6 separate regions of the Homo sapiens genome follow, and regions 2, 3, 4, 5 and 6 are each reported to be linked to region 1. Evidence: microRNA targets listed by miRTarBase, many of them from high-throughput screens and not tested one by one. Region 1 holds a microRNA gene; each other region holds the end of a gene's coding sequence.
What was found. The annotated mature microRNA hsa-miR-548ba reads AAAGGUAACUGUGAUUUUUGCU and lies in region 1 at 3,634-3,655, shown strand. An mRNA with a match to its seed (bases 2 to 7 or 8) in the 3' UTR can be bound and repressed. Matches are read on the target gene's strand: a 7mer-m8 pairs with bases 2 to 8, a 7mer-A1 pairs with bases 2 to 7 and ends in A, and an 8mer does both.

Region 1 (5,091 bases):
AAACTCACTGTTAGACTTGATACACAAAGGACAAAGAGAAAGGAATCAAGCCTATCACTACAGAAAACCACCTAATTGCAATAATTAAAAATAAGAGAGGAAGTAAGAAACAAAGGATATACAAAACAAGCAGATAACAATTAATTGCAAGAGTAAGTCCTCACCTATTAATAATAATCTTGAATGTAAATAGATTAAATTTCCCATTTAAAACATATAGACTGGTGAAATAGATTTTTTTAAAAGACCCAAATATATGCTGCCTACAAGAAACTTACTTTACCTGTAAAGACACATAGACTGAAATTGAAAGGATTGAAAAAAGATAATCCTTATAAACAAAACCCTAAAGTGAGCAGGAATAGCTATACTTACATCAGAAAAACAGACTTAAGTTAAAAGATGTAAAAAGAGACACAAATTAACATTATAAAATAATAAAGGGATCAATTCAGCAAGAAATCATTACAATTGGAATATATATATATATATATATATATATATATATATATATATATCCAACACCAGAGCACACAGATATAAAAAGCAAATATTATTAGACCTAAAGGGAGAGATAGACCGCAATACATTAGTAGTTGGAGACTTCAACACCCTACTCTCAGCATTAGACAGATTGTTTAGAGTGAAAATCAACAAAGAAACATTGGATTTAAACTGCACCACAGACCAAACAGACACTTACAGAACATTTCATCCACCAGCTGCAGGATACAAATTCTCATCATCAGCAAATGAAATACTTTTCAGAATTGGCCATATTGTTTCTGTTAGGACAATAAACAAGTCTCAAAAAAATTTTAAAAATATCAAAATTATGTCAAGTACCCTATAATACCATAATGGAATAAACCTAGAAATCAATAACAAGAGAAACATTTGAAAGCATACACTACATGGAAATTAAACAGCACATTTCTGAATAATCAATGGGTAAAGAGGAAATTAAGAATAAAATTTAAATCTTTCTTAAATGAAAATGAAAACACAAAATACCAAAACCTATGGGATGAGCAAAAGCAGAATTAAGAGGCAAGTTTATATCAGTAAACCCCTATATGAAAAAACAAGAAAGATTTCCCAGCCTCAAATAAACCAATTAACACTGCAACTCAAGGAACTAAAAAAGGAAGAACAAACCAAACCAAAAATTAGTAGAAGACAAAAATAATAAATATCAGAGCAGAAATAAATGAAATTAACACTAAAATAATAACACAAGAGATCAATGAAATAAAAAGTTGCTTTTCTGAAATGATAAGCCAAATGAACAAACCATTAGCTAGACTAAGAAAAAATGGGAGAATAACCAAATAAATAAAATCAGAAATGAAAAACATACACAATGACAGTAGCAGTAGTAGTAACATTACAATGTTTACTAAAAAAATACAAAGGATCATTAAAGATTGCTATGAACAAGTATACACCAATAAATTTGAAAACCTGGATAAAGTCCTAGACAAATACAACCCACCAAGATTGAACCAAGAATAAATAGAAAATCTGAATAGACCAATAATAAGTGACAAGTTTGAACAGGTAATTGAAAATCTCCCAACAAAGAAAAGCCCAGGACCAGATGGCTTCACTGCTGAATTCTACAGAACCTTTGAAAAATAATTAATACCAATTCTTCTCAAATGATTCTGAAAATTGAAGCAGAAGGAACTCTTTCTAACTCATTCTCATAGGCCAGCATTGCTCAGATACCAGACAAGGACATAGCAAAAAAAAGAAAACGTAGGCCAATATCCCTGATGAAGATAGTTGCAGAATCCATAATAAAATACTAGCAATCCAAAACCAATAAGACATCAAAGAAATAATATATGAGAATTAAGTGGGATTTATCTGAGAAATGCAAGAATGTTTTAACATATGCAAATTAGTAAACATGATACATTAAAGCAACAGAATGAAGGACAAAATTCATATGACCATGTCAATATAGAAAAAGCATTTGGTAAAATTCAACATGCTTTCATGATAAAAACTCTCAATAAATTAGGTATAGAAGGAAAGTACCGCAACTCAATAAAGGCCATATATGACATACCTTCAGCTAATATCATGTGGATTGAGGAAAAGCTGAAAGCTTTTTCTCTAACAACTGGAATGTTACAATAATTCCCACCATCACCACTCTTATGTAACATAGTATTGAAAGTTCAAACAAGAGCAATTGGGCAAGAGGAAGAAATGAAGGGCATCCAAATTTGAAAAGAGGAAGTCAAATTGTCCCTGTTTTTAAATGACATATTATACATGGAAAAACTGGCCAGGTGCAGTGGCTCATGCCTGTAATCCCAGCACATTGGGAGGCTGAGGCAGGTGGATCACGAGGTCAGGAGATTGAGAACATCCTGGCCAACATGGTGAAACCCTGTCTCTACTAAAATACAAAAAATTAGCCAGGCATGGTGGTGCATGCCTGTAGTCCCAGCTACTTGGGAGGCTGAGGCAGGGGAATCGCTGGAACCGGGAGGCAGAGGTTGCAGTGAGCAGAGATCGAGCCACTGCACTCCAGCTTGGTGACAGAGCAAGACTCTGTTTCAACACCCTCCTCCCCACCTAAAAAAAACCTTTAAGAACTGTTAAACAAATTCAGTAAAGTTGAAAGATACAAAATCAACCAACAAAAATCAGTAGCATTTCTATCCACTAGCAATAAACTACCTGAAAAAAAAATAAAGAAGCCCATTCCATTTACAAAAACTACAAAACAAAACAAAACCCTATGAATAAATTTAACTCAAGTGGAAAAAGGCCTCTACAGGGAAAACCACAAAACACTAATGAGGTAAATTGAAAAGGATACAAACCAATGGAAAAACATCCCAAGCTCATGGATGTGAATAATCAGTATTGTTAAAATGACCTTACTAACTAAAGCAATCTAAAGATTCAATGCAATTACTATCAAAATACCAATGCAGTTCTAGGCACAGTGGCCCACACTTGTAACTCCAGCACTTTGGGTGATTGGGGCAGAATGATCCCTTGAGTCCAGGAGTTCAAGAGCAGCCTGGGCAACATAATCCCCATCTATGCAAGAAAATAAAAAAATAGCTGAGTATGGTGGCACATGCCTGTAGTACTAGCTACTTGGGAGGCTAAGGTAGGAAGATTACTTGAGCCCAGGAGTTTGAGGCTGCAGTGAGCCATAACTGAGCCATGATCACACTCCTGCCTGACTAAGACCTTGTCTCTAAAAATTAAAAAAATAATAATAAAATAAAACAGCCAACAACAATGCCGTCATTCACAGAAGTAGAAAAAAAAATTTAAATTTGTACGGAACCACAAAACATCCTGCATGGCCAAAGTAAGCCTAATCAAAAAAGAACAAAGTTGGCAGCATCAAACTACCAGACTTCAAAATATAATACAAAGTTATAGTAACCAAAACAGCATGGTACTGGGGGAAAAAAAAAACAGACAAATAGACCAATGGAACAGAATAGAGAATCCGTAAATTAATGCACGTATCTATAGCCAACTGATTTTTGACAAAGGTGCCAAGAACATTCACTGGAGAAAGGACGGTTTCATAAATGATGCTGGGAAAACTGGATATCCACATGTAGAAGACTGATACTATTAGGCTGGTGCAAAGGTAACTGTGATTTTTGCTATTAGAAAGTAATGGCAAAAACTGCAATTACTTTTATATCAACCTAACAGATGCCCCCTTTCACCTCTCATTCTATACAAAAATCAACTCAACATGGATCAAATTCCTAAATATACGTCCAAAAATGATAAAACTGCAAGAAGAAAACATGGAGGAAGTGCTTGAGGACTTTGGTTTCGGAAAAGATTTCATGAATAAGACATCAAAAGCACAGGAAACAAAATCAAAAATAAAGGGGATTATATCAAACCAAAAAGCTGCAGAGCCAATGAAACAATCAATATAGTGAAAAGACAACCACAGAATGGGAGAATATGTTTGCCAAGTACTCATTTGACAGGGCATTAATATCCAGAATATATAAGAAACTCAAACAAAAAAATACCAAAAAAATTTGATTAAAATATAAGCAAGTGATCTGAACAGATATTTCTGAAAAGAAGACATATAAATGGCCAACACATATATGGAAAAATGCTCCACATCACTAATCATCAGAGAAATGCAAATCAAACCATAATGAGGTATCATCTCACACCATTTGGGATGGTTATTAAACGAAAAAAATACCGGTGAGGATGCAGAGAAAAAGGTACCCTTACATATTGTTCGTGGGACTATAAACAGTAAAGCCACTATGGAAAACAGTATAAAAAGGTTATTCAAAACACTGCAAATACAACTACCATATGATCCCATTAGGTATTAGCAAAAGGAAAAAAAAACAAAAACAAAAACTCAGTATCCTGGGAAAACATTACCTTGACCACTCAGAGAAGTCATGCCTCTCCAGTGCCTAAGTTGAAACTGTGCCCTGCATCCCAGGAAATGATGCCTTGACCAGCCAGGGTGGTCACACACCCCAGTACCTAAGCTGATGTGACACTCTGCATTCCAGGGAAATGGGGCTTGGGCTGCCTAGAACAGTCACATCCCACAGGCCTGAGCTGAAGTGGCACATTGCCCCTGGGAAGTCAATGCCCTGGCCAAGCTGAACAGCTGCATATTCCAAGGCTGAGCTGTTATAGTATCCTGCCGCCCAGGCAAGAGAGAAGTGGCTGAACTGAAATACTCCACCCTATATGCCAAATACCTCTAGTACCTTGCTTCCCTGGAGCCGGACTAGTTCCCTATTCTGGGCTTCTGAGATACCTCTCTCCCTGGGGAGTGCAGTCATCCATGTACCCACTCCCCCCCGGCCCAAACTAGAGCTGTGCTTTGCCATTCTGGGATACTTGCTGTTGCTACACATGGCTGTAAAGAGTCTAGAATGCTGCTAAGCCCCACCATTCCAGGGTCTATGGTCACTACTGCAAAGTGCCTCATCTCCTGGGAGATGCCACTGGGTATATTTGGCTCAGGTTCTCAAATTGCATCCATACCTTTCTCCCCCTGCCCATACCTCCAGATTACCCCTTCTTCTGAGGGATCAAGGT
Region 2 (5,000 bases), not on the chromosome of region 1:
CTAGCAATTGCCCTTATAAAGTGATGATACACTGGGCTTTTGCCTTTTGTGCTTTTTTAGGCTTACCATCTAAACTAAATTAGGCAAATAGTAATGTCCCTTTTGCCAAAACGTGGTGGTTAGAGATGATGGGCTTGCTGACTTCTAGGTTAGTTGGTAGAGATGCATTAACCTATTCTCATTCAGAAACCAGACTGTGATGACTGGGAGAGCGGGCTGAATGCAATGGAGTGTGCATTACATTTGGAAAAAAATGTGAATCAGTCACTACTGGAACTGCACAAACTGGCCACTGACAAAAATGACCCCCATGTGAGTATTGGAACCCCAGGAAATAAATGGAGGAAATCATTTGCCTTAGGGATTGGGAAAGCTGCCCACTAACTGTCTTCCCCATTGTTTTGCAGTTGTGTGACTTCATTGAGACACATTACCTGAATGAGCAGGTGAAAGCCATCAAAGAATTGGGTGACCACGTGACCAACTTGCGCAAGATGGGAGCGCCCGAATCTGGCTTGGCGGAATATCTCTTTGACAAGCACACCCTGGGAGACAGTGATAATGAAAGCTAAGCCTCGGGCTAATTTCCCCATAGCCGTGGGGTGACTTCCCTGGTCACCAAGGCAGTGCATGCATGTTGGGGTTTCCTTTACCTTTTCTATAAGTTGTACCAAAACATCCACTTAAGTTCTTTGATTTGTACCATTCCTTCAAATAAAGAAATTTGGTACCCAGGTGTTGTCTTTGAGGTCTTGGGATGAATCAGAAATCTATCCAGGCTATCTTCCAGATTCCTTAAGTGCCGTTGTTCAGTTCTAATCACACTAATCAAAAAGAAACGAGTATTTGTATTTATTAAACTCATTAGTTTGGGCAGTATACTAAGGTGTGGCTGTCTTGGATTCAGATAGAACTAAGGGTTCCCGACTCTGAATCCAGAGTCTGAGTTAAATGTTTCCAATGGTTCAGTCTAGCTTTCACAGTTTTTATGAATAAAAGGCATTAAAGGCTGAAGTAGTCTGGGATTTTTATCTATTAAGCTAACCATTTGATTCAGGCTGTTGTAGGACATGTTCTTCAGTGTGGACAGCTGTATGGCTGTGACTGGATCAGTGTCCTGCTGGTGTACACACAGGTGAGGACCTGGCTGGCGAAGCATCCCCATTAGGAAGCAGGTTAGGAATGTGCTTCATCCCTAGTGAGAATGAAAGTATTAACAGCATAAGTATGGAAGGTCCCTTCATTTCAAATACCAAAATGTTGCAGTAGGAGGGCAAAGGTTGAGACGATCCTTTTTTTTTTTTTTTTGAGACAGTCTCACTCCGTCGCCCAGGCTGGATTGCAGTTGCTCAATCTCACTGCAACCACCACCTCCTGGGTTCAAGCAATTCTCCCCTCAACCTCCTGCGTTGGGACTACAGGCACACCACGACGCCCAGCTGATTTGTATTTTTTTTGGTAGAGATGGGGTTTCATCATGTTGGCCAGGTTGGTCTCAAACTCCTGACCTCCTGTGATCCACTTGCCTCCACACCCAGCCCAAGACAAGATTCTTAAATATTAACATCCTTTGCTGAACAGGCCACAGATGTTTGCCAAGTTCCTGTCTAGCCCTAGAAGCAAGACTGAAATTGTTGCCCTTTTAAGTTTTCAATCATAATAGCTGCGTGTTCTGACCGTGAAAGTAACTGCTTGAGAATCCAGAAAAGGGAAGTTACACTTCCTCCCACGTGATTGGGGCTGAAGTGGGGTGTTTATAATTGGGTGAAAGTGTCCAGGAAATCTGGAATAAAGGGAAATATCTGATTTTGTGACAGCTTTGGGCTGACCCCAAGGAAGCAAGAAGTATTTTGGTGAGGTTCCCAGGCAGTGAGAAAATGACCTAAGGGCGCTGGACACCCTCAACCTCACCATCTACCAGTTCCTAGGAGTGAGGCAGTTCCTGCCACCCTTTCCTGTAGTGCTTGGGTACTACCCTAAATAGTTATGGGGGAAGTGTTCATCTGTCATCCAGCTGACTGCCACCTCATGGTTTTGGGTCAGCCACCCTTGCTCAAAGTAAGTTGGGGCCAGTGATAACATCTGCTCAGCTAAGCCTGGCCTGTCAGCCCTGGGGCAGTTCTCCAGCAGCATTCTGGTCAGCACAACCTCATCTTCCTTCACCTGGTCCCAAGAAGTCTTCCGGGTGATACCAGGGTGAAGTGAGAAAAGGTCCCGAACACTTCCCTAGGATCCCTGTGAAGGTGGCCAAGTATATACCCCAAGCCAGTGCTGGGCGTAGGTCCAGTGTGCTCTGGCAGTGATGGAACCCTAGGAAATTGTGGAGGAAGGGTAGGCTCAGAGCAAGGGAAGCTGGGGTGGGGCACAGGGCAATGCAGTGCCCCTGGTTCAGGTGGAGGACAGACCTGTTTTCCAAGGCCCAATAAGGATCCATGTGATCTTTGAGTGTAGTGTGTATGTTGGTTGGTGATTGTTCCAAAGGTTCTTTGAGGTGATTTTCGGGGATCTCTGGCATATCCGTCAGGTTAAACTCCACAGTTTTCCTCCTCACTTGAGATACTTCTGGGTGCTCCATCAAGGCCCCATCGCTCTCTGAGAGCAATTCAAAACTTTTCTTGGCCCCAGAACTCACAGTCTTTAAGCTTTTGTCTTTGGTGTCTATGCCTGTGACACTGTGAAGCTTTGACGGCGCTGATGGTTCTAGGGGGAAGAACATGGGAGTGGGGCTGAGGGGCGTCTGTGGGGCACTGTAGTAGCCTGGCCTCTGATACAGTGGGGCAGACTTGAAGGCGTCCACAGCCTTAAGCTTCCAGGCCTTGTTGTCTTCCTGGCCCCTAACGTTCTGTTTGGCTGCCTTGTGGTTTTTGGGCAGGCCCTCGTGGAGAAGGGATTCCCTCTTGGGCCACAGTAGTTTGGTCCTTGAGTTTGCCCTGGGAGGATGGTGATCATGGGACTGCAGGCCTAGGAAGCGGCCAATGATGCCAGCGTGAGCATCCTCCTCGTCCTCCTGATTGGGCTGGAACTCCATCTCCTCTTTGTTCAGGCTGGAAAGAAACAGGAGATGCAGGGCTGAGCCAGTGGACAAAGGACCAACACCTGGCCTTACTTCTCCCTTACCCCCGCTCCTCTCTCTCAGTTGGCCCAAGCCAAGGCCACACCGTCTTCCTCACCATGCCCCAGCTCTCACCTCTCTCCTGATCTGTCCTGTACCTCCCGGTGATCCCTCCAGGCCCAGCTCACCTCACTGTTTGTTGATTCCCTCTTGACCAGAGTTAACATCCAACCCCCGCAACCACCCCGCCTGGCGTGTAAAGGCCTCCTCATCATTCACTTCCCCTGTAAAACCCCTCACTCCAGGCAGTCAGAAACACTGGTGCCCTGGCATGAGTGGTTCAGATGAGGCCCATGAGTGACTCTGGGCAATGCCAGGAATTTGTGGTTCCAACTGGGAGTGACATCCACAAAGAGAAATTTGACTTCCTAGCAACAGGCATCCCGGGAGCCCCAGACCTTTACCCTGCAAGGGAAAGCTTATCTACCAGAGAGTATGGCCTGCCCTTGCCCAAGTTCAGATTCTTCCCATGTTCCATGGCTCAGCTCCAGACCCAGCTGGAAGCCGCCTCCCAGGCAGACAAAGATGACTGTGTTCCATGTTCTGTCCCTTTTCTGGACATCCAGTACTTTGTACCTTGTATCCAGAGTTTGAGGCTTGGGTTTGAGCTCCCTCCATAAATTGTGCATTCCTTGGAGACAAGGTCTATGCTTTATCGTTCTGTTTTCAGCCCTCCCCACCCCTCAACAACCTTCAGCTGCTGGGGTACAGACCATGTAGGGCTCAAAGTCATCCTCCAGAAATGTTTCTGACCTAAGCAAGCCTCCAGCCTTCATTTGATCACCTTCCCAACCCTTCCTCACACTATCTATAGACTGTAGTTAAACTCGATTGCAGTCTAGTAGGATATTTGGTTCTTAAAAGAACAAGCAGCCAGGCACAGTGGCTCACACATGTAATCCCAGCACTTTGGGAGGCTGAGGAGGGTGGATCACCTGAGGTCAGGAGTTCGAGACCAGCCTGGCCAACATGGTGAAACTGTCTCTACTAAAAATACAAAAATTAGCCGGGCTTGGTGGCTGGCACCTATAATCCCAGCTACTCAGGAGGCTGAGGCAGGAGAATTGCTTGAATCTGGGAGGCGGAGGTTGCAGTGAGCCGAGATTATGCCACTGCACTCCAGCTCTGGGCAACAAGAGTGAAACTCCGTTTAAAAAAAAAAAAAGAAAAGAACAAGCGAGAACAGCACTGGATACCGTGGAAGAAACCCTTGAGTATGAACCCTGACATGTGCCCAACACTCTCCAAGGCACTTTCAACTCTGTTGTCCTGGGGAGAAAGGACCAGCTGGGATAGCCCTTCAGCCCACTGCAGCTCAAGAGGGATTCAGATGGAATCAGGGAAGTGGGACCATGTGGGGATAAGTCTGGCTGCTGTGGGTGGCCTGAGCCCTTTACTCGGTAGGACAAAGTCAATTCAGGAGGTACCTGTGATGGCCTGGCTGCCTGCTGGGACTTTGCTGCCCCTCCCCCATCCCAGGGAACCCCACTTCCACTTCCCATCCAAGCATCGTAGCTTATCAGAAAACATAGTTTTGACACCTATAATTCCAGCATTTTGGGAGGCCAAAGCGGGCAGATTACTGGTCAGGAGTTGGAGACCAGCCTGGCCAACATGGTGAAACCTCATCTCTACTAAAAGTACAAAAATTAGCCAGTTGTGGTTGTGGGCACCTGTAATCCCAGCTACTGGGGAGGCTGAAGCAGGAGAATCACTTGAACCCAGGAGGCGGAGGTTGCAGTGAGCCAAGATCACGCCACTGCGCTCCAACCTGGGCGACAGAGCGAGATACTGTCTCAAAAAGAAAAGAAAACATAGTTCTGGATGACAAGAGCCAGGTCCTAACGTTCCACTGCATCACTGATCACAGGCTGTCCTTCGAGTAGCA
Region 3 (5,091 bases), not on the chromosome of region 1:
TAAGGCTATTTTTAGATAATGAACTTAAGTGTTTGGTAAGTTTGAAGTTTGTACACAATTAGAGGATGAGTATGCTATCTCAGAGCATCTGGAAATAGGAATGAGATCTGTCTATGCTGTGAATGCCAGCACAAATCACTTCTAAATGCCTTATACCAAAGACTAGCCATTAATAACATTTACCAAATGTCAAGCAATTGTGCCAGCTGCTCTACTTGCATTTTTTCACTTAATCCTTACGACACTTTGAAGTAGAGAGATGTTTCTATTATCCTAATTTTATAGTTAAAGAAAATGAGATTCGGAGCTCACTTGCTGAAAATCACCCATCTCGTAAGTATTGGAGCCAACATTCAAAATCAAGTCTGCCTGTCTTTAGAGCCAGTATTCATATGACCACAGTGCCATACACTACACCTTCTTAATTTAAGAAATAAATACAAAACCACAGAATTAAAATACATGCTTTCCAGGTTAAGATGGTAGATGAAGCACGTATACCTACCTCCACTCCCTCCCAAAAATCCCATTAAATGACGGTAAAGGTTTTTGTTTTAAGATATAAACCTAAAAGGATGGAAGAAAAGAGGAAACAGGAATAAAACGTTAGAAGCTGGAAAATAGGTAGATCAACAGTAAATAATGTAGTAGACTCTGAAAAACTGAATTCTGAGCCAGCGGTAGAAAAAGAAAAAAACCCACAAGAACCCCCAAACAACAACAAAAACTCACAACCTAATTTATATCATGGAATCCCTAAAAGGCTCAGAAACTAGTGGCTTCAGGTGCCTCTAGCAATAAGGGGTAGAAGGGTAGACATTAAAATAAGAATTGGTGCAAGGTTTAAGTAATCAGATGCTCTCTGCAACTCTATGCAGCAAAACAGCCTCCATTACACAGTACCCTCTCAAAATGATAGTTTTTTTTTTTAGGCCAGGTGCAGTGGCTCACACCTGTAATCTCAGCACTTTGGGAAGCTGAGATGGGCGGATCACCTGAGGCCAGCAGTTCGAGACCAGCCTGGCCAACATGATGAAACATCATCTCTACTAAAACTACAAAAATTAGACAGGCATGGTGGTGTGCGCCTGTAATCCCAGCTACTCAGGTGGCTAAGGCACAAGAACCGTTTGAGTCAGGGAGGCAGAGGTTGCAGCGAGCCAAGATCGTCCACTGCACTCCAGCCTGGAGCAAAACTCTGTCTCCAAAAAATAAAAAGTTTATTTTCTGAAAAGGGTAAAATAGAAGGTCTCTAGATTATGGGATGCCAGGCAGTTTGGGCAGAGGTACTATACTCAAAACAGAGACGCAGTGAGCAAATACATACTGGATATTGAAACACACACACACACACCTGTCTGTCCTGAGCCTCACCACAGCCCTATTCCTTTGAATCCCAGAACGTTGGCAGGGCCTCATTCAGCACTTGGGAGATTGGAAGAGTCTTTGTTCTCTGAGCAATGACCAGCTCAATGGGAAATAACTAAAGATACAGACGCAAAAAGTTTTCTCAACAAAAATGGCCCAATAGATGGCCCTTTGGCAAAGTTCAACATCAACAAGCTCCACTCCAGGCCTTTAATCCATGTTAGTTCCCAATTTTTAAGTGTGAGCAGACAACCAAGGAAAGCATCTAACATGAAACAAAAAAAGAGAAAAGCAATTACAGATAAAATAGAATATAAAGGAAAAAGAAAACATTAAAAGTACTATTGTTCTAAAAAGAGAGCAGAAGGAAAAAGAAGGGGAGGAAATCAATAAAAACCTATAAGCATTCATTGGTGGATGCTACAAATTAATACGACTGAACTCATGGAGACAGAGTAGAATGATGGTTACCAGAGGCTAGGAAAGGTTAGGGAAGGAATGCAGGGATGGCTAATGGGTACAAAAATATAGTTAGATGTAATGAATAAGTTCTAGTATTTGATAGCATAATGGGTGATTACAGTCAATAATAATTTACTGTACATCTAAAAATAACTAAAAGTATAACTGGAATGTTTGTAACATAAATAAATTATAAATGAGGTGACAGATAATCCCGTTATCCTGATGTGATTATTAGGTACTGTATGCCTGTATCAAAATATCTCATGCACCCCATAAATATATACACTTACATACCCATAAAAAATAATAAAATTATTTTAAAACCTACAAAATTTGAGAAATAAAGATACAAGTTTCAAGTTTAAATAGGTTCACCAAGTGCCCACCACAGTGTATTAAAATAAACACACACTAAATGATGTCATCATGGAATATAAGCATACTAGGAACAAAGATCCTTGTTTCTCAGGAAGAAATACTTAGTCCCACAAAAAAATCAGGAATCAGAATGATTTCAGATTTCTCAGCAGCAACACTGAAAGCTAGAGGCTTTGCTTTAAAATTCTGAAGGAAAATGATTGCTAATCTAGAACCCTATATTCATCAAACTATAGAATAAAGACATTTTTAAGGCCAGGCACAGTGGCTCATGCCTATAATCCCAGCACTTTGGGAGGCTGAGGTGGGCAGATTACCTGAGGTCAGGAGTTCGAGACCAGCCTGGCCAACATGGCAAAACCCTGTCTCTACTAAAAATACAAAAATTAGCCAGGCGTGGTGGCACGTGCCTGTAATCCCAGCTACTTGGGAGGCTAAGGCAGGAAAATCGCTTGAACTGGGAGGTGGAGGTTGCAGTGAGCCAAGATCATGCCACTGCACTCTAGCCTAGTTGACAGAGCAAGACTCCGTGTTAAAAAAAAAAAAAAAAAAAAAAAAAAAGACATTTTTAGACCAGCAAGGTCATTCACCTCCTATGCCACCTTTCTCAGGAGGACACTGCCAGAGAAAACAGGCTCCATCAAACAAGGGAGTAAACCAAGACACTAGGTAACAGAAAACGAGATATAATAAGAGAGAAGAAAAGGAATTCCCGGACAATAGTGAAGGGAGTTCCCAGAATACAGTCACATATCAGGCATAGAGAAGGGAGTTCCCAGAATATAGCCACACACATCAGGCATAGAAGGCTATCAGTCCAGTCAGGGGCGGGTCAGAAGACTCCAGGAAACGCTTACTCAGGAAAATGAAACAGAGTACCTAATAAAGCTGATTGCTGTGAATGATTTAGATAAATGGCAAAAAGTTTAGTTGATTTAGTGGAAATTCCATAGAAAAACCAAGCCTAGAAAAAAACAAAAAGATACACAGCAAAAGAAAACCAGGTACTATACTCAGAATCCTAATGATACTAATCTACTCAAGATCACACTACGTTATCCTTTGGAAGGAAGAGATGACAAGATACGTGTGAGTGATGGCGCTAAGGACAGGAAAGAGACCTAAATCCCAATCACGACCGTCACATTATTTAGAGACCAAAAGGTAAATACCAATAAAATCAGCTAAAAAGAGGTGTATGTAGTTGCTCCTGGGGAGAAGGTTAAGGACTATCCCCCCTCCACTCAACAAACTTGGAGAACTATTTGGCTTAAAAATATAGTACTTTTTCCTTTGGTAGTATTAATATTTCATATACTCAGCATCAAGCAGTAATGCTACCTTTCATTAAGACTGCCTGGCAATAAAACACAATGACACTTCATCAGGATTGGCAAATTCTCTAGTCCAAAACAAGATGAACTTACTGAAGCTTGCAATAATCTCAATATAATACAAGTCTCACTAGTGATTGTTGGTTTGCAGCAAAAAGTAGGATAAGAAAAATAGAAACCCAACTTTTCTTAATTGATATGTTTATTAAAAACATAGACTAATAATGATCCTGTGCTTAAATGTCATTGTGGTTGTGTGCTGATTTCCACAAAACATAATATAAGAGACTCTTCACAAATACACTCTGGGCAGAAGAAAAAGGTAAACAGAAATGACTGACAAGACAGTGCCATTTCAGACACAGCTCCCTTAATACTTGCTAGAAAACGGAGTTTGACATTATTTACAATTATACCAGTATTGTCAGAGGCCAAACGTCACAGGGATAAGGGTACACCAGATCACGAGACATCGTTTCATACTTCCCAAATAGTTTTATATTTTAGCTTTGAAGGTCAGTTACCAGAGCCAAACTTGTTCTTAACAAGCAGAATTTTATGTCCATTCAAAGAGTCTCTTACACCTTTCTGGGCCTATTCACTTGCAGAGAGGAGTCGAAACTGTAACCAGGCTCTTCATATCGTGCATTCATATGTGATGTCCTGTCTTCATATGCTGTCCAATTTCTTTAAGATAAATGGAGCTGAAAGAAAAACAAATCTAAAATTAGTTTTCAAATCTATTAGCCCATAGGCTACATTATAGAATTATCAGGTTTATTCAACATGTTTTTGAAAATAACTCCAAGTGATGGTCAAGCATGTGCCTGTACAGCCCAGCAAAAGGGACTAGTTGCCTTCCAAAGCAGCCCATTCCACTGTCATTCAGCTATTATTGTAAATTTCATTCTTATACTACATAAAACCTTTTCTCCAGATAGTTTGCCCCTTAGGGCCATAAAGTATAAATCCAATTCTCTTTCAAATGACAAGGCTTTACTCTAGCGATTTATTTTAACTGTAAAAGGAACAAAACTCTAGAGGAAACAAATGGGCATTTTTCACCTTTAAAAACTCATTTGAAAGGCAGAGGATATGGGAAAACACTGAACTAGAGAACCGGAAGAGCTGGACACCTATTTTGGGTCTCTTACTGATTAGCTATATATCACTTAACATACTCTAGATCACATCTGATACAGTCCTACCTCAGTCATTAAGAGGGTCTAATAAGATCATGTACATAGAAATGTCTAGAAAACTAAGTGTCGACATATAGATCTAAAGAAGTGATATTACTGTCCTGTGTAAAAGTGTTGTGACCAAAAAAAAGCTACCCAAATCACCTTCTTTCTCAATACTCATACTAATAGAATTTTGTTAACATTATTTTATTTATTTATTTTTTTCAGCCTCCTGAATAGTTGGGACTATAGGCACATGCCACTATGCCTGGCTAATTTTTGTATTTTTTTAAAAGACGAGGTATCACCATGTTGCCAAGGCTGGTCTTGAACTCCTGAGCTCGAACAATCTGCCCGCCTCA
Region 4 (5,091 bases), not on the chromosome of region 1:
GCAAGGACAGTGGTGAGTAGGCGCCTCTGAGATGTCTTCTCTCCTTCACCTCCGTACCTTTGTTTCACAGTGTGCAACGTGTATCTCAGGGAGAAGTGTACAGAAAACCAGGGCTCAGCTGGGTCTGGGGAAGCTGCCCTTGATCCCCATTTCACTTTAGGGAAGAGAAAAGCAAAGAGGTCTTTTGTAGCCTCTAATCAATTCAGGGAAATGGAAGAGTTTACAACAGACTAGCTCAAAGCTGGTAGAGAAAATGGCTTAAAGCAGTTAATACAAATAACTAAATGTCAATTACTTTTCTGAAATGAAACAAGGCTGGTTGAAACATTTACTTACCATTTGGTAGGCATTAGCTTTTGCAACCTAATGAAATAGCTGTGGTAATTGAATCTCAATAAGGGGGTTTCAAAGTGTCAAAATTATAAACAATTCTAATATAAAATAATGAGATAATCAACTCTGCTCAGTTCAACAAGTATACTAAGTACCTGCTACTGGCTTTTATGGGTTACTTTTGTGTCCTAATTTCAGCCTTAGTTTCAGGCAATGTTTGATATTTGGGAACTTGTAACATCTAAATATGAAGTGTGCCTATATCTGTTATGAAGATTTTAAAATGTACAGTTACATGAGGTGGTAAAGTTTTTCATTAAAAAGGCCACAAAATGGAGTTTTCTTAGTGACCTTTTTACAACAATTATACTTTGATTCCTGTAGAAGGATGCTAACATTTTCCCTTCAAGCAAAGATTTATTGTAATAAAGATTATTCATTTATTCATAAAATGATGTTTAATGAACACCTAAACACAGTCATCCCTCCATTATTTGTGGGTTCTGCATCCACAGATCTAACCAAACGAGAATCAAAAATATTTGAAAAGGGTGGCTATGTCTGTATCGAACATGTACAGACTTTTTCCCTTGTCATGATTCCCTAAACAATACAGTATAATAACTATTTACATAGCATTTACATTGTCTTAGGTATTATAAGTAATCTAGGTATGATTTAAAGCATACGGGAGGGCTTGTATATGTTACATGCAAATACTATGCCATTTTATATCAGTGACTTGAGCATCCATGAATTTTGATATCCATGGGGGTGAGGTTGGGGAGATCCTAAAACCAATCCCGCCCAAATACTGAAGGATGACTGTATATACAAAACCACTGTTAGGTGCTCAATATCAGTCTGTCTCACAAGGTTTCTGTAAAACTCAAATGAGAATCTAGATGGCTCCACGTAAAAGAATGGACTGCTGTGTGTGTGTGTGCACACGTGTGTATGTGTATGCTATTTTTATTACATAATCTGAGTAACAAATACATTCAATTCTCTAATATAGAAAGTTATCTGGGTCTATTTACTTAAAATTTTTAATAGAAGCTACCATTTACTGAGCTCTAAATGCCATCGGTATGCAATGTGCTTTACGTTTCACCTAATCTTTATAATAACCTTAGGAGATGGGTATCCTCTACATCTTAAATGAGGAAACACGAGGTCAAGAAACATGATAAAGGTCCCAGTAACTAGACCATACTAGAACTGAGATGAATTCAGGGCTATTTGTCTGCAAAGCCTGTGAACTCATTCTATTCTCTAAAGTTCTAAAAATGGATGTTTCTCTTCAATTATATTCTAGTTAAGCCTCATTTATATGCTCTTATGAAAAATCAAGCAGTTTCAAGAACTATCAAATAGAATTACAACTTTTTCTTGACAATTCACAGTCATCAATGTGAACAGTAGTCACGGTTTGGGCAGTAACGTGGTTTACTCTAAAGACCCTGCACTTCACGGCCTAGTAGGATTTTTGCCTTGCATTCAACCAGGTAGTTTTTTGTTTTTTTCCTTTACCCTGTCACTTTTCCTTGCTATTTTTGTGTCTGTAATTTGCTGTGGACTAATAAACCAAATAACCAAATGTACAGGAATGGTATCTAAAGCAATGGTTCTGAAACTTTAGTATCCACAACTCACCTGGTGAGCTAGTTTAAATGCAGGTTCTTGGGTCACACTCCCAGGTGTTCTGATTTAGTAGCTTTGGGAGAATGAGGCCCAGGATTTGCCCTATGAGTAAAGAACACATACTTTATGACTATGAGAAAAAGGGGAGTCCATTTTCAGTAGCTTTTATATTTTCATCTACGGCCTGGTTAGTTGAGATTACTGGATGTGTGTATATATATATGTGTGTGTATATATATATATATATATATATATCTCCTGCTATTTGAGATACTAAATATATTTAGAACTAGTTTCAAAAACAACTTTATTTTTTCCCCTTACATCATAAAATTTAGATTTTATAAAATTTAGATTTGTTGAACAAAACGGCTACAGAACAGTCAGAAAGTACCAGAAAAATGGCTTATTTCCCTCTCAAACCTTGCTTTAGTCTGTCAAACTTTCTTAAAGAGCAGCATGTATTTAGTCTTTGGAAATATGGGTTTGAGTTCTGGCATTCCGCTAGTTCTATGATTTGACAAATTGCCTAACCAGTCTCAGCTGCAGATTTTTGCTCGTCTTTAAGATGGGAGATAATAGTGCCTACTTCTCAGGGATAGTGGGAGCTTAAGAGAGAATGAACAGAAAGTATCGAGGGTAAGCACTTAATATGTGGTCAAAATTTCAAAATGAATTTGTTATTTATAAGGCTTCTAGTTGTAATTATCACAAAAGTTTTGTGGATTCTTTGAGGGAACCAGATTTCATATTTATACACCCCAATGCAATCTACAGAGATGAGCACAGTGGAGTGTCCTCCTTCATAGTCTAGGAGAGAAATAAAATTTGCAGTTGCAGCACATTATCCTTACTTTCGCGGTATAAAACAGGCTTGAAGTATTGATTTCTATGTCACACAGCAGGATGCAAAGAAACCAAGATTTTGCTTATTTAAATATTATAGACAAATCCTAAATACTTATAATGAAGGATTATTACTTCAGTGGAAGAAACAGGCATACTAACATGAAAAAACACATTTTATTGCACTTAAGTTATAAGAAAATAAAATTTCTAAGTGAATCAAACCATAGACACAATCCCTTTAAAGGTTGTTTTCCTCCATCATGTCAGGTTGTTACATAACTAAAATTAACCAACTTGAATCTGATTGTTTTAAATCAGACTATAAATAAAACAAACAAAAAAATAAACAGAAGGAGGAAAAAAGATCGCCTAGGATACAGTGTTAAACCACTTTCACAGTTCAGCTTGAGTTGTGGCTCTTGGAGAATGAGGCAAACCATTTGACTGTTTCATTCATTTTGTTTGTTTGCATGTGACGCCTTTACTACAAAAACTGAATAGTTTCTGCTTTGTCAGTTACTCAGAGCAATAAAACTGTAACAGTTGTTTTCCCAAATACTGTAAAACACTAAGACTGACCAGCAACTTTATTTTAATTTTGTGTTTTATATATTTTTAAAATATTTTGTCAGTTTTACGATGTACGTTCATCCATTCACCACAGCCCTCAAAAAGAAAAGTTTCTCCACAGAACAGGCAAGTAATAGCTCTGTTCCAAGGAATGTGTTTTAATTTTTGCCCAGATAAAAGAAAATAAGCTTTGCACACACTCTCAATTCTTTACTTGCAGGCAAACTTCACTCTTTATTATCTGAAACTCTTCCATTCTCAGCCTCTTAGAGGCACAGATGGCTCAAGTTTCAGTGGCAAAAAGTCTTTTTTCCATAACCAAACTAGAGCAAATTTGGAATTCAGTCTGGGACTAAAACGTCACAGCAGAAAAAAAATAAAAAAAAATAATTTGCTTTTTTCTTTCTTTCATTTAGCAGCATAAATAAGTTTGGCCACTGGGAGTACAGTACAGGGTTGGGACAACAATCCCATATTTGAAGACCTACTTCTAGCACCAGCATCAAGAATTAAATCCATCTCAGGACTCACAGAACCCAGGACAACTTGCCACCTTTGAGCAACATATGCATTGAAGAATGTATATGGAAGCAACAGTAAATAGATTAACAGAGGCTAATACTGTGATTGATTGACATTGGCAATGGTTGGCAAAAAAAAAAAAAAAAAAGCTTTTCATGATAACTGTACAAAAACAATTCACAGTAATTTTTTTAAGCTTTTCCACTCCAGAAAAATGACTTTTTGTTGCAGATGCTCTCTAATTAGAAAGTCAACCAGTACTTGTTTTGATATTATTGCAGTTCCTTTCTAGGTGTCTAGCTGTCAGTGGTAAAAGAACAGGCTAGCAGAATCTGTAATGATGTTTCAGCATTAACACTGCCCAATGACCACTGGAGAAGAAAATAAAGAAATAATTGCACCTGGTTTGATTTAGAAAGTCTCATTTTGCAAAGCTGCCCTCAGTCAAAAGTGAAGCCTTTTATGTGATGAGACAGCAGACGCCTCTCTTGTCAGTTATGGTTTGTCATCTCTTCTTCTTTTCCTTCTTAGTCTGTAGGTCTTTTCAATCTGTTGCCCCAAGCCAACATCCTGCACCACTGAGAACAAGGGATTTTTTTCTTTTTCTTTTCTTTTTTTCTTTTTGCAGGGGGAAGGGCAGGGAGTATATCGTCTACACAATTGGACAAATTCATCTTTTCTGCTCTTCACTTCATGTCCACATCAAAGTCCAGCACCAGCAGCTTGGTTTCTTCAGTCCCATTCCGACTCCCAACTGCACACACCAGCTTTGTGTTTGAGGCTCTGATCCGCCACACAACTCCCCCACTCCCCCCACTCTCCAATGTGACTAGGTTTCGAATAAATTCACCCGTTTTCAAGTCCCATAGTTTTACAGTTCCATCATCTGAGCTGGTAATTACAAAGTTCTTGTTGAACTGTAAACAGGTCACAGCACTCTGATGCTTGTTGGGACCTAGACAAAAACCAAAAGAATTTAATTACTGGTTAGAAATAATGGCTATGAGTTAGTTACATTATAATTTGTAGACTTCTACTTTAGAACATACAATAAATGCAACATTTGAAATGATACATATTTAGAAACCCATGTCCTCAGTATTTTAGGATCAGCATGGATGTAAGAAAATCTGGTAGTGATTTGTAACTGAAACATTAACTTTCAAGAGGTCT
Region 5 (5,091 bases), not on the chromosome of region 1:
GCGAAGAGTGCAAACAGAGTGCTAAGAATAAGCCAGTTGGATGCACTTGAACTAAACAAGGCCCTGGAGCAGCTAGTTTGGTCCCAGTTTACTCAGTGCTTTCATGGATTTAAACCTGGGCTGTTAGCTCGCTTTGAGCCAGAGGTGAAAGCGTGCTTATGGGTTTTCTTGTGGAGATTCACCATCTACTCCAAAAATGCCACAGTGGGACAGTCAGTTTTGAATATTAAGTACAAAAATGATTTTTCCCCTAACCTGAGATATCAGCCACCCAGTAAAAATCAAAAAATCTGGTATGCTGTTTGTACAATTGGTGGCAGGTGGTTAGAAGAACGATGCTATGATTTGTTTCGAAACCATCATTTAGCATCATTTGGGAAAGTCAAGCAGTGTGTGAATTTTGTGATTGGACTTTTGAAATTAGGTGGGCTGATTAATTTTTTGATTTTCCTTCAGAGGGGAAAGTTTGCAACTTTGACAGAACGTCTCCTAGGTATTCATTCTGTATTTTGCAAGCCTCAAAACATATGTGAAGTTGGCTTTGAATACATGAATAGGGAACTTCTCTGGCATGGTTTTGCTGAATTTCTGATTTTTCTCTTACCACTTATCAATGTCCAGAAGTTGAAAGCCAAGCTGTCTTCATGGTGTATTCCTCTTACTGGTGCACCTAATAGTGACAATACATTAGCCACCAGTGGCAAAGAATGCGCTCTATGTGGAGAGTGGCCCACCATGCCTCACACCATAGGATGTGAGCATATTTTCTGTTATTTCTGTGCTAAGAGTAGTTTCTTATTTGACGTGTACTTTACTTGTCCTAAGTGTGGCACAGAAGTACACAGTCTGCAGCCACTGAAATCAGGAATCGAGATGTCAGAAGTAAATGCTCTTTAGAAACTAAAATTGCTTCCTTTGAGGAAAAAAATGCACCGTGTTTAAATTCTTAATATTAGTCATCCTAAGTATACCATTTATGTATCCTTTATAAGGAATGTGCTCCTAGCCACTGTCTTCTCCTTTCCAGGCATGACTGAAATCTAATCACTGGAAACCATGTGATTCTAAATATATTATGTAAATGTTAATGTATTATGTTTTTTAAATCATTGCATTCAATTTTTAATGTCAAGAATAATGGACAGCTTTTGTCAGGTGACTACTAACAATGCTCCTTCATTTTACTACTTCTTAAAACAAGGTTGGATTCTAAAGATAAAGATTTTGGAGACTCTGGGATGAGTGTGCATTTATTTTCAGAGTTGACATAATATGATAATGTGACAATTATGAGACTGTTTTAAACCTTAAGACCTGATGCCTCAGTTGTAACTTTTTTTTTTTTTTCTGAGACGGTGTCCTGCTCTGTCACCCAGGCTGGAGTGCAGTGGCGCGATCTCTGCTCACTGCAACGTCCGCCTCCCGGGTTCAAGCAATTCTCCTGCCTCAGCCTCCCGAGTAGCTGGCACTGCAGGTGCATGCCACCATGCCCGGGTAATTTTTGTATTTTTAGTAGAGATGGGGTTCACTGTGTTAGCCAGGATGGTCTCTATCTCCTGATCTGGTGATCCACCTGCGTCAGCCTCCCAAAGTGCTGAGATTACAGACGTGAGCCACTGTGCTTGGCCGCCTCAGTTGTAATGTTATGCTTTTCTCTGAAGCCAATTTTTAAGAAGTTCAGTCCTCAGCTGTCTGACCCCTCCACAGTTGGCTTTATATTCAGAAAGTAAAAATTACTTAAGGCAGCTTGGAAGTGAGGCCTGGGAACTACTGGGGGCAACTAGTATGAACAGCACTATTTACAGGTCTCTTTCTCTTGCCTTTGATTCAGAGCTGTCATTCTCAGTAAATATTGATAGTTTTATTGAAACAAAAGGGGTCTTTAGCATGGGAATAGTAACAGCAGTGCATAATCAAGATAATTCTGTATCCTTCACTCTTTTTCTCTGCCTTTTTTTACTTAAAAGTAAATTCAGACTCTTAAAATGGTATAGAATTATTAGCTTGAACATTGAATTATCTCGTCTTAACTAGAATGTTTTTTAAAAAACAGTTTTTAAATGTTTTTAAATAAACATCTTGCTAGTATGATGGAAATACACTGCCAGTTCATTTTTCTCTTCACCTTTCATTGAACAAGTACTCAGGTGCCAGGTACTGATGTAGCCATTAGAGGCACAACAGTATATTAAGCAGGAAAAATCAAGTTACCTTCATGGAGTTTACATTCTGTGATTGAATGAACTGTAAGTTTAATTTAGGTTCAATTTAGTGTAAGATACTGAAGAAGTTTTGTAGTTTGAGTTAAGAGTATTTTACATCTTAAGAATTTGCCTTCTTTTGCCTTCTGTAATTTTAAAACATTATTGTAGAAAACACCAACAATTCAGGAAAAAATATAAAATCAACTTTCCCACAATTTTTTGAGAGAGATCATCACTATATTTTACTATATTTGTAGATTTGTTGCACGTACATTTCTTATTTACAAAATTATTATAATGCATAAAAAATAGCATTTTTTCCTATGTATAAATATTCTTCAAAACTATTTTAGGGCTGAGCACAATGGCTCATGCCTGTAATCCCAGGCTCCCTACTTAGGGAGGCTGAGCCCAGGAGTTTGAGTTCGTTTCTAAAAAAATAAAAATATATACAAACGTCTTTGTTTTTTGTTTGTTTGTTTGTTTTTGGTGAGAAAGGGCCTCACCCAGTCACCCAGGTTGGAGTGCAGTGGTGTGATCATGGCTAACCGCAGCCTTTCCCTCCCAGGGCTCAAGCGATCCTCCCATCTGAGCCTCCCAAGTTGCTGGGACCACAGGCCCATACCACCATGCCTGGCTAATTTTTGTAGAGATGAGGTCTCACTTTGTTGCCCAGGCTGGTCTTGAACTTCTGGGCTCAAGCAGTCCTCCTACCCTGGCCTCCCAAAGTTGTGGGATTACAGGCATGAGCCACTGCACCCAGCCATAATATATTTTTAAAATGCTATGTATATGCCATCATATTCCTATTCCTATTATTATTTAACCACCATCATAGAGCATTTAGGTTCTTTTCACTTTCTGTTGTGAATAATGCAATGTTGAATCTGAGTTCATTAAGTGAAGAGTCCAGCTGCACACTGCAGGCCCAGTCTGGATGTAGGTGCTCAGATGGTTCTCTTTGAGACAGGCTTTATCCTTTGGCTCTCATTTTTTTGATGAGTGTACATGGCATGAGGGACACAGATTCCGCTAGAATTCAAATCCCACTTGTGTATAACCTAGGGCAATGTGCCACATCTCTGCACATCTGTTCATTGTAAGGATTACATGTTTAGTGTATATAAAGCTCTTAAAACAATGCCTGACACATAGTAAATAGAATATAATAGTAGTGCTTTCCTTTGCTGTTGTCAGTATTACTCTGAGTCGGTTTCATTCTCACACAGAATGATGGCCGCTAGAAGCTCAAGGCTTATAATCTGCTAGCTTTCTGATCCCACTGGCATGAGATACTCTTGCCTAATAGTTACAGCTAAAGTCCAGGAGCTCACTGTTACTGGTCTGCCTTGGATTATGTGCACATTCCTGAACCAGCCACTATAGCTAGGGGATGGAAAATACTGTTCCTGGTTACTTAAATGTAGGTGATGCTCCTCCCATATACCACATGAACCTAAAGGAGTCCTGGAGGAGGCCGTTCACCACAGGAAACTGAGGTGTTCTTAGAAGGGTGGATGCTGGCAGATCTCTACTAGTTAGAGTCTACATTTGCCTTACTCATTTCAAAAGTCCACATTGCAGTCTCATTTTACCAGTGATCTAGCTTGATAAGGACATTCATAAGTAACTGGATGATTCTTTAACATTGCAGATTTGAAAGGATTAAATAAAGTCAACAAAATTGTTATATCAACAATTGTATTATTTTGATAGAGTAACTTCTAAGTAGTTATCCATATTCTCAAAATCTTAAGAAAACAGTACTTTACATATATGCCAGCTGATAGACTTGTCAGTATTGGGGTAGGGGGTGGTTTTTTTCCACAGACCCTAATGGCACTTAGTAAAAATAGGTTTTTATTATTTTTCATTTTTATTTAACATCTGCCACCCCTACTAGGTGATAACCCCCATGAGTTCAGAGACCATGACTATTTTGTTCATCACTAGATAGCCAGAGCCTTTTAGTTCTAGTGTAGCAATAGAAACATTTTATTAGCTGAATAAACCTAAGGTCGCAGATAGGGTTCTGCAGAAGCTGGCGTTGAAAGGGGTTTGAAGTACAAGAGATTTTTATGTATAACTCTCAGGGATCCATGCCTGTGAAGGGAAAGAGCAAAGCAGGAATAGGCAGAAGAAATGAGAGTACTCTAAAGCAGGCCTGAAAAAAGTTGGCCAGCCCAGAGGGGAGCTCTGAGCTAGTGTCATCTGTCAGAATGTCCTAAATTAGGCCAAAGTAAATAGGCCTTTTTACCTACACTTCTGTCAGTCACTGGGTGTGGGCAGCTCTGGGAAGGTTGTGATCTCAAGCATGGCAGCTCTGTAGCGGAAGCAGATCCTGTGGGAGCCAACAGCTGGAGGCAGTCCACTGACCACATTCCACAGCTGGGCACCATGTACATCCTTGCAGGAGGAGCCAGGTGGCATATCTTGGTGTGTACCACATCTAATACTGTCCATTTTTTCCTTTCTGGTTTCCTTTTTTTTTGTTTTTCTTGCATATAGTACACTGGACAAACAACACACTAATGCCAGGTAGTGTTCGTTTATAAACAATAGATTTATGACTGACACACCCAAGTGTCTCTTGAGTATCTCTGCCCCACTACAAATACCAGACTTCTTGGCCAAGTTGCTATGACAGCCCCCAGGAACTCCATTCAGTCTCTGCCTCTCTGGGCACTGCCAGAAGAGTTGCTATACCTCTGGTGCGACTGTTTCTACTCCCCAGCAGGCTCCAGGCTCAAGCTTTAGGAAAACTGGATGGGATTTAGCTACATGATATGTTTCCATGTTAGCCTCAAGTATGTAACCATCAGTTACAAGTGTTCTTCCTTAGGAAAATAAAAACATTTACACTTAACATTTTTCTTTTCTCTCCCTT
Region 6 (5,089 bases), not on the chromosome of region 1:
TTGGGTGATCTTGGACCAGTTGATTTACCTCTCTAAGCTTTAGTTTTCTCATAAGTAAAATAGGTATAACCATATTTACATAAGGTTGTGAAGATAAGAGGTATTTGCCAAATGGGCACCCACTAGGTCCTTAGTGAATTACAGACATTGCCATCATTACTGTTATCATTCAATTTGGACAGATGGGGTGGAAAGTCTTCTGGGGAGGCCACAGGCTCCTCAGGAAGAGTGACAGATTACTCACACCCAAAAGGAAACAGATAGTAACATTTTTTATTAAATATTACAGTGGATCAAAAAGTACAAAATATCTCTTGCCTGCTATGTGATTGGGAAACTATTGGCACGTAATACAGTATCAAAAGCAGTAATAAGTACAATTTGGAAAACATACAAAATTGAGTGTTTATAGTTGGCTCAGCATTCTTCTGGTAGTGTTTAAACTAATGCAAAGGTTACTCAATAACCTCTCCATTGGGAAACTATATAATATCACTGGGCCATGTTGCTATATACAAATAATCACCTTACAGAGCATAGAGGTTACATAGCTGGAATCACCAAAAGTATACAATATTTACAACACAGGAAAGTTTAAAAAAGTATAAACAGCCAAGAGATTATGCTGCTATTCTTCAGACATATTTCAACCATGAGGAGACAGGCAGAATATCAAATACACTAACAGCCAACACTGGACTTTAAGTGCTCAAGATAATCATTGCAATGGTATGGGTCTCACCAGGGCAAACTCATTCCCATTTCTCTTTAAAATTGGGACAAGAGTAAAACTAGACCAGATGCGACTTGGCTGACCACCACCAAATGTGACTTTGTGGGACGATAAGTGAAGAGAAATAAATGGTTCTCTTTGAAGGCACACTACATAAAATATTTTTGTGGGACCACCTCGAAATTTCCATCAGACACACCAACACAGTGAAATACAGTACTTGAGAATTCATGCACCAGGTCAGAAAGTTGTAAAGTTAACATCGAGTTTTAACAAACCCTTCTGTATATGCCCTGATAAACAAGTGAACTTAAGAGCTTCTAGCTAGTAAATAAATAAGTCAGTCCTGTGGCAAATATTACAAGTTTGAATCACTTACTAGAAGAATACTTAATTCCGAAACTCGGTTGGGCTGTTTTTATTTTTTTATCATGTGGAGTTGCCAAACATTAAACCAGAAGTTGCATGGAAGTTTTTTAAAAATATTATTTAGAATCTCCAAATCTCCAATAAATCACAGACTTAGTGCATTTTGAATTGCAACATTTCTTGGAAGCCACACTCAGTAAATAGATTTATGACTCCACTGCCAATTCGATTCCACAGTTTCCTTTACAGAACTACCAATAACAATGGTTTGATTGCACAAAGAAAGGCTTGTGCAATTCCATTCAATAATAAGGCCCCTTGAACTCAAACAATGCAAACAAAGCCTTATTTAAGACATTTTAAAACGTCGTTCTCAGCCAATGAAGAATTCAATGGTCTTTTTGAAAGATTTCCAAGATCTCTGTTCAGAGTTTTAAAACAAATAACACACTGCTTCTGTTGGGAATGCGTACCCCCATTTCTCTTTATTTGTCCTGATGTTTTGCCGAGGGTATGAGCTTCCTCAGACAGAAACAGTGAGTCTCCTCTCAGAAGAGATGAGAAAAACAAAAGCTGGACTATGTTAACATTGTTTGAAAATGGTGTGATCGAATTCCAACATGATGAAACCAGACTGAAATCATTGCAGTGGAAAAAACAAATGCCCCATATTCCAAATAGGTGAGCTCCACCGGGGACAGATGCCCCCCCTCCTTTTTTTTTTGAGACACGAACTCATAGAAACCACATATGACCTAGCCCATGTCTGCTGCAGAACCACCGAAGTTTCCTTTTTCTTCCATGTCCTCCGATTCTGTGACCATTCAATCTAGTGCAACTTTCTTATATGTGTCCTGGCTAGCATCTTGCCAGCTGGAATTGAGATTTTTCCCCCCTCTAGCTTGTGCAATAGCAGGATAATCTGCACTCACACATTTATAATCTAAATTCTACTAGTCTATCTATGGTTCTATTAAATATATATATATATATTATTCCACAGGAAGGTAAATAATTAATTGAAGCAAATGGAACTCTTAACACTGGATCTCTACATTCTTTTGTTTCCACCTTTGGATATTAAGTATGTTACATTGAATATTTGGCTTCATATCATGGAGACATTTCAATACAAATGCACGGCATGCATGGCTTTGTTTAAGAGCCGCAGTTTCATTGTTATCAGTTTTGATTATTTTGCAGTCGAGTTACCTATTTAGAAGTTGAAAATTGTCACCAATTTTCCCAGAATTAAGTATCTCAGAGGTAAAAGACTTAGTTAACTATGGTTCTAAAGTCTACTGGTAGTGTTGCGGGAGGGGCACAGTGGGTTGGGGAGTTCATCCAAGCGGTCTTCAGCAGGGATGGGACTTGGGGAGAAAATCCACTCTCTGTATCCATTGACTTTTAATTAATACAGTTAGAAAATGTGTCCACCTTAATGTTATATCTCGGTAGCAAATGGAATACAGTGGCAAGAATGACAACGGACATTCTCCACATCTTTTCACTGCCTGAGCAGCTTGACCATTTACTTCCCACAATAAAAGAAACCAGAAAGTGGACTGTATTGCCAGGTGGTTAAAAACATGACCCAAACCACCTTACATGTTTCTGTGTGTGTACACACAAAACTCACACCCCATAAAACCAAATAGGATGACTTTTCTTTTGAAAAGGCTAATCCAGTATGTCAGTTATCCCCAAAGATGTGGCCTGGGAGATTCTTCTTGGGAATGACAAGAAACCAACTGGATGAAAACAACATGACTACTTATCACTCAAAAGACCGAGGCTAGAGAAGCTATCAGGACTGCAGCTGCTCCTCTTCTGGCCAGTTGAGCTCCATCCTCTTCCCAACCCCCTTTCCCAGACCATTTAAAGGAATCAGTGCCAACGCCAATGTAAATCATTTTGGCTCCTGTTCTAATTTCTGAAATTCCTAAAATATCTGTGCAGCCCACAAATATGTCCTCTAGACTCTGTTGTTATTCGGCAGCTTGCTGCCAGTGAGGTTTTTGTTTTTATGATTCTCTGGTATGTAGGACAGTTTCACAGCCTAGATAAGGTAAGTACAATGCTCAATATTTTCACAGAACCCAATACTTCAAAGCAAAGCATTTGGCTGGGTAAGCAGTGTATAAGCTCTTTCAACTATGCCATTTATGAGGAACAAAATCCTTAAGTTGCGGATCTACAAAGGAACGTTCTTTGCACTATTGTGTGCTTGACTGTTTCTTTTTCATTTGTTCCACTAGAATCAGTTGCTTCAATTTGTAAACAATAACTTTACCACCCAAAGCTGCTCAAAATAAGATGTGGAAAAATTACAAACACACAACAACTAGGACAGTCAGTCAGCCTCAAAAACAAAACAAAAACAAAAAGACCTGCAAACAAAAGCAATACCATTTAATAAAAAAAAAAAAAAAAAAAAAAAAAAAGACGAGAAGGAACTGGGAGAAAATGGAACTACCTGTATATAAATTAGGTGAGCAAACAGTGATACAGGTAGTTTTAAGAAGCAAATATATACAGTCAATTTAACAGTGTTTACTTCTCTGGATTGTTTAATAGTGTCAAAATGAAAGATCTATTGAAGTTTCACTATACATTGCATTGATTGAACCTTGGAGAGTTTTATGAAAAAGAGGGGCATCCCTTGCCATCTGTTTGCCAGTCTTCCTTGCCCCTTCCTTTGAAATGCCTGCCTCTTTTTTGCCCAGATTGTTTCCTGACCATCCGAACTCAGATGGGGTCCTCTAAGTTCTTCCTGGATATTCACAAATCCCTTCACAAGGCCCACGTGCGAAGTGAATGATCTGGAGGTGCCTGGGCATCTGTGTTGGAAGGGAGTCAAGACTCACCAGCCAGTCAGTTTGTGGGCTAGAGTTGTCCCACAAAAATCAGGCATGTTCACCTCCCCTCTGGGCCCCTACAGCTGGGACTGATCATAGCCTCAGATTAGAAGAAATACTGACTTCTAACTCTATAAGCCAGCACTCCTGGGTAAGGAGTGAAGCTCTGTTGGCCATGCCGCTTTGGACTGCTGGGCAGAGCTGAGCCTACAGTTTTGTACTGGGGTGCACGGATGACAGCTGGGAAGATGGAAAGGCAGCTTGAGGATTTATAGCAGCTAAAGGGTAAATGCTGTTATGCAAAAGGTCCCCATATGAACTTCCTACAGGTGTAGCCGCAGCCAAGTGTCTGTACAGCTGCTGAGAATTTGTCGGTGATGTAAAAATTCCTCTTTGCATCACAAGCGAGTGGAAAGCCAGGGGCTGCATGAGTGGAGAAAGCACAGTCTGGTTTTTCAAGTACTGCAGAGAATGAGAATACCCAGCCGGGAGCCTGGAGTTGAGGCCCGAGTTACACAGGCTCCCGGAATACAGACCTGGGAAGATAGGGGAGGAGAGGGGAAGCTTGTGGCCTTCTGATCCGCCCCCGGAATGCCCACCGTGCGCTGCTTTGCTGCCTTCACTCTCCTGCTCAGAGGCCTTCTCCTTCCCAGAGACCTCCTTGGATGGGTCTAAGGGAGACACTGCCCGGGCCTTTTTCCCTGCAATCACAAGGTCCAAATCCTCCAGGCTGCGCTTGATCGGCCGCGCCGCCCCAATGTTCTGCGGGCTCATTTTCCGGTGCAGGATTGGGTGGACCATGCCTTCCATCTTCCTGAAATTCTCCAGTCTCACATGGTGAGGTTTTCCTGATCTTGAAAGCGATTCAGGGTATTTTTTAGGGCCTGACATGGTCATGGGTGATACCCGACAGGCTTTGGGGTGACAGTCTCGACTCTGGCTGCCTAAGACCTGGAACTGGGAGATGCCTTTGCTCTCCTGGGGCCCTGTGGTGGAATGAGCCAGGCCCAGGACCTTGCCGGTAGGTTTGTGCGGGTTCTTGGGAAGGCTCAGATCTGTAGGCTGATCATCCGTAGGGGCTTCTGCTGCCGCCGACTTTTTGTCTTGCAGGTGCAGGGACGTGAGATAA

Region 2: the mRNA of FTH1 is a reported target of hsa-miR-548ba. Seed matches in the 3' UTR shown: 7mer-m8 at 650-656.
Region 3: miRTarBase lists TOMM5 as a target of hsa-miR-548ba. Seed matches in the 3' UTR shown: 7mer-m8 at 3,865-3,871.
Region 4: miRTarBase lists FBXW7 as a target of hsa-miR-548ba. The part of its 3' UTR that is shown has no 7-base or 8-base seed match.
Region 5: miRTarBase lists PEX2 as a target of hsa-miR-548ba. Seed matches in the 3' UTR shown: 7mer-m8 at 2,208-2,214.
Region 6: miRTarBase lists ARID5B as a target of hsa-miR-548ba. Seed matches in the 3' UTR shown: 8mer at 3,167-3,174 and 7mer-m8 at 2,107-2,113.

Annotation. Positions count from the first base shown.
Region 1 is chr2:49,055,970-49,061,060 of GRCh38, forward strand. It overlaps MIR548BA (microRNA 548ba), which reads left to right and starts at 3,634; the gene lies at 3,634-3,689. The region is part of intron 2 of FSHR (follicle stimulating hormone receptor); the gene reads right to left.
Region 2 is chr11:61,960,299-61,965,298 of GRCh38, reverse strand. FTH1 (ferritin heavy chain 1) reads left to right here. Exons shown (of 4, transcript NM_002032.3): 3 at 187-312; 4 at 408-1,014. The coding sequence ends at 572. It overlaps BEST1 (bestrophin 1), which reads right to left. Exons shown (of 11, transcript NM_004183.4): 10 at 2,406-3,044; 11 at 838-1,195. The coding sequence ends at 1,177. Among named protein-coding and RNA genes, the nearest start is that of FTH1, 4.8 kb to the left of the region's middle.
Region 3 is chr9:37,584,684-37,589,774 of GRCh38, forward strand. TOMM5 (translocase of outer mitochondrial membrane 5) reads right to left here. Exons shown (of 2, transcript NM_001001790.3): 2 at 3,730-4,249. The coding sequence ends at 4,215. Among named protein-coding and RNA genes, the nearest start is that of TOMM5, 5.4 kb to the right of the region's middle.
Region 4 is chr4:152,318,277-152,323,367 of GRCh38, forward strand. It overlaps FBXW7 (F-box and WD repeat domain containing 7), which reads right to left. Exons shown (of 14, transcript NM_001349798.2): 14 at 2,268-4,873. The coding sequence ends at 4,605. Among named protein-coding and RNA genes, the nearest start is that of FBXW7-AS1, 17 kb to the right of the region's middle.
Region 5 is chr8:76,979,067-76,984,157 of GRCh38, reverse strand. PEX2 (peroxisomal biogenesis factor 2) reads left to right here. Exons shown (of 4, transcript NM_000318.3): 4 at 1-3,900. The coding sequence ends at 897. Among named protein-coding and RNA genes, the nearest start is that of MIR3149, 15 kb to the right of the region's middle.
Region 6 is chr10:62,092,109-62,097,197 of GRCh38, reverse strand. ARID5B (AT-rich interaction domain 5B) reads right to left here. Exons shown (of 10, transcript NM_032199.3): 10 at 254-5,089. The coding sequence ends at 4,168. Among named protein-coding and RNA genes, the nearest start is that of LINC02621, 160 kb to the left of the region's middle.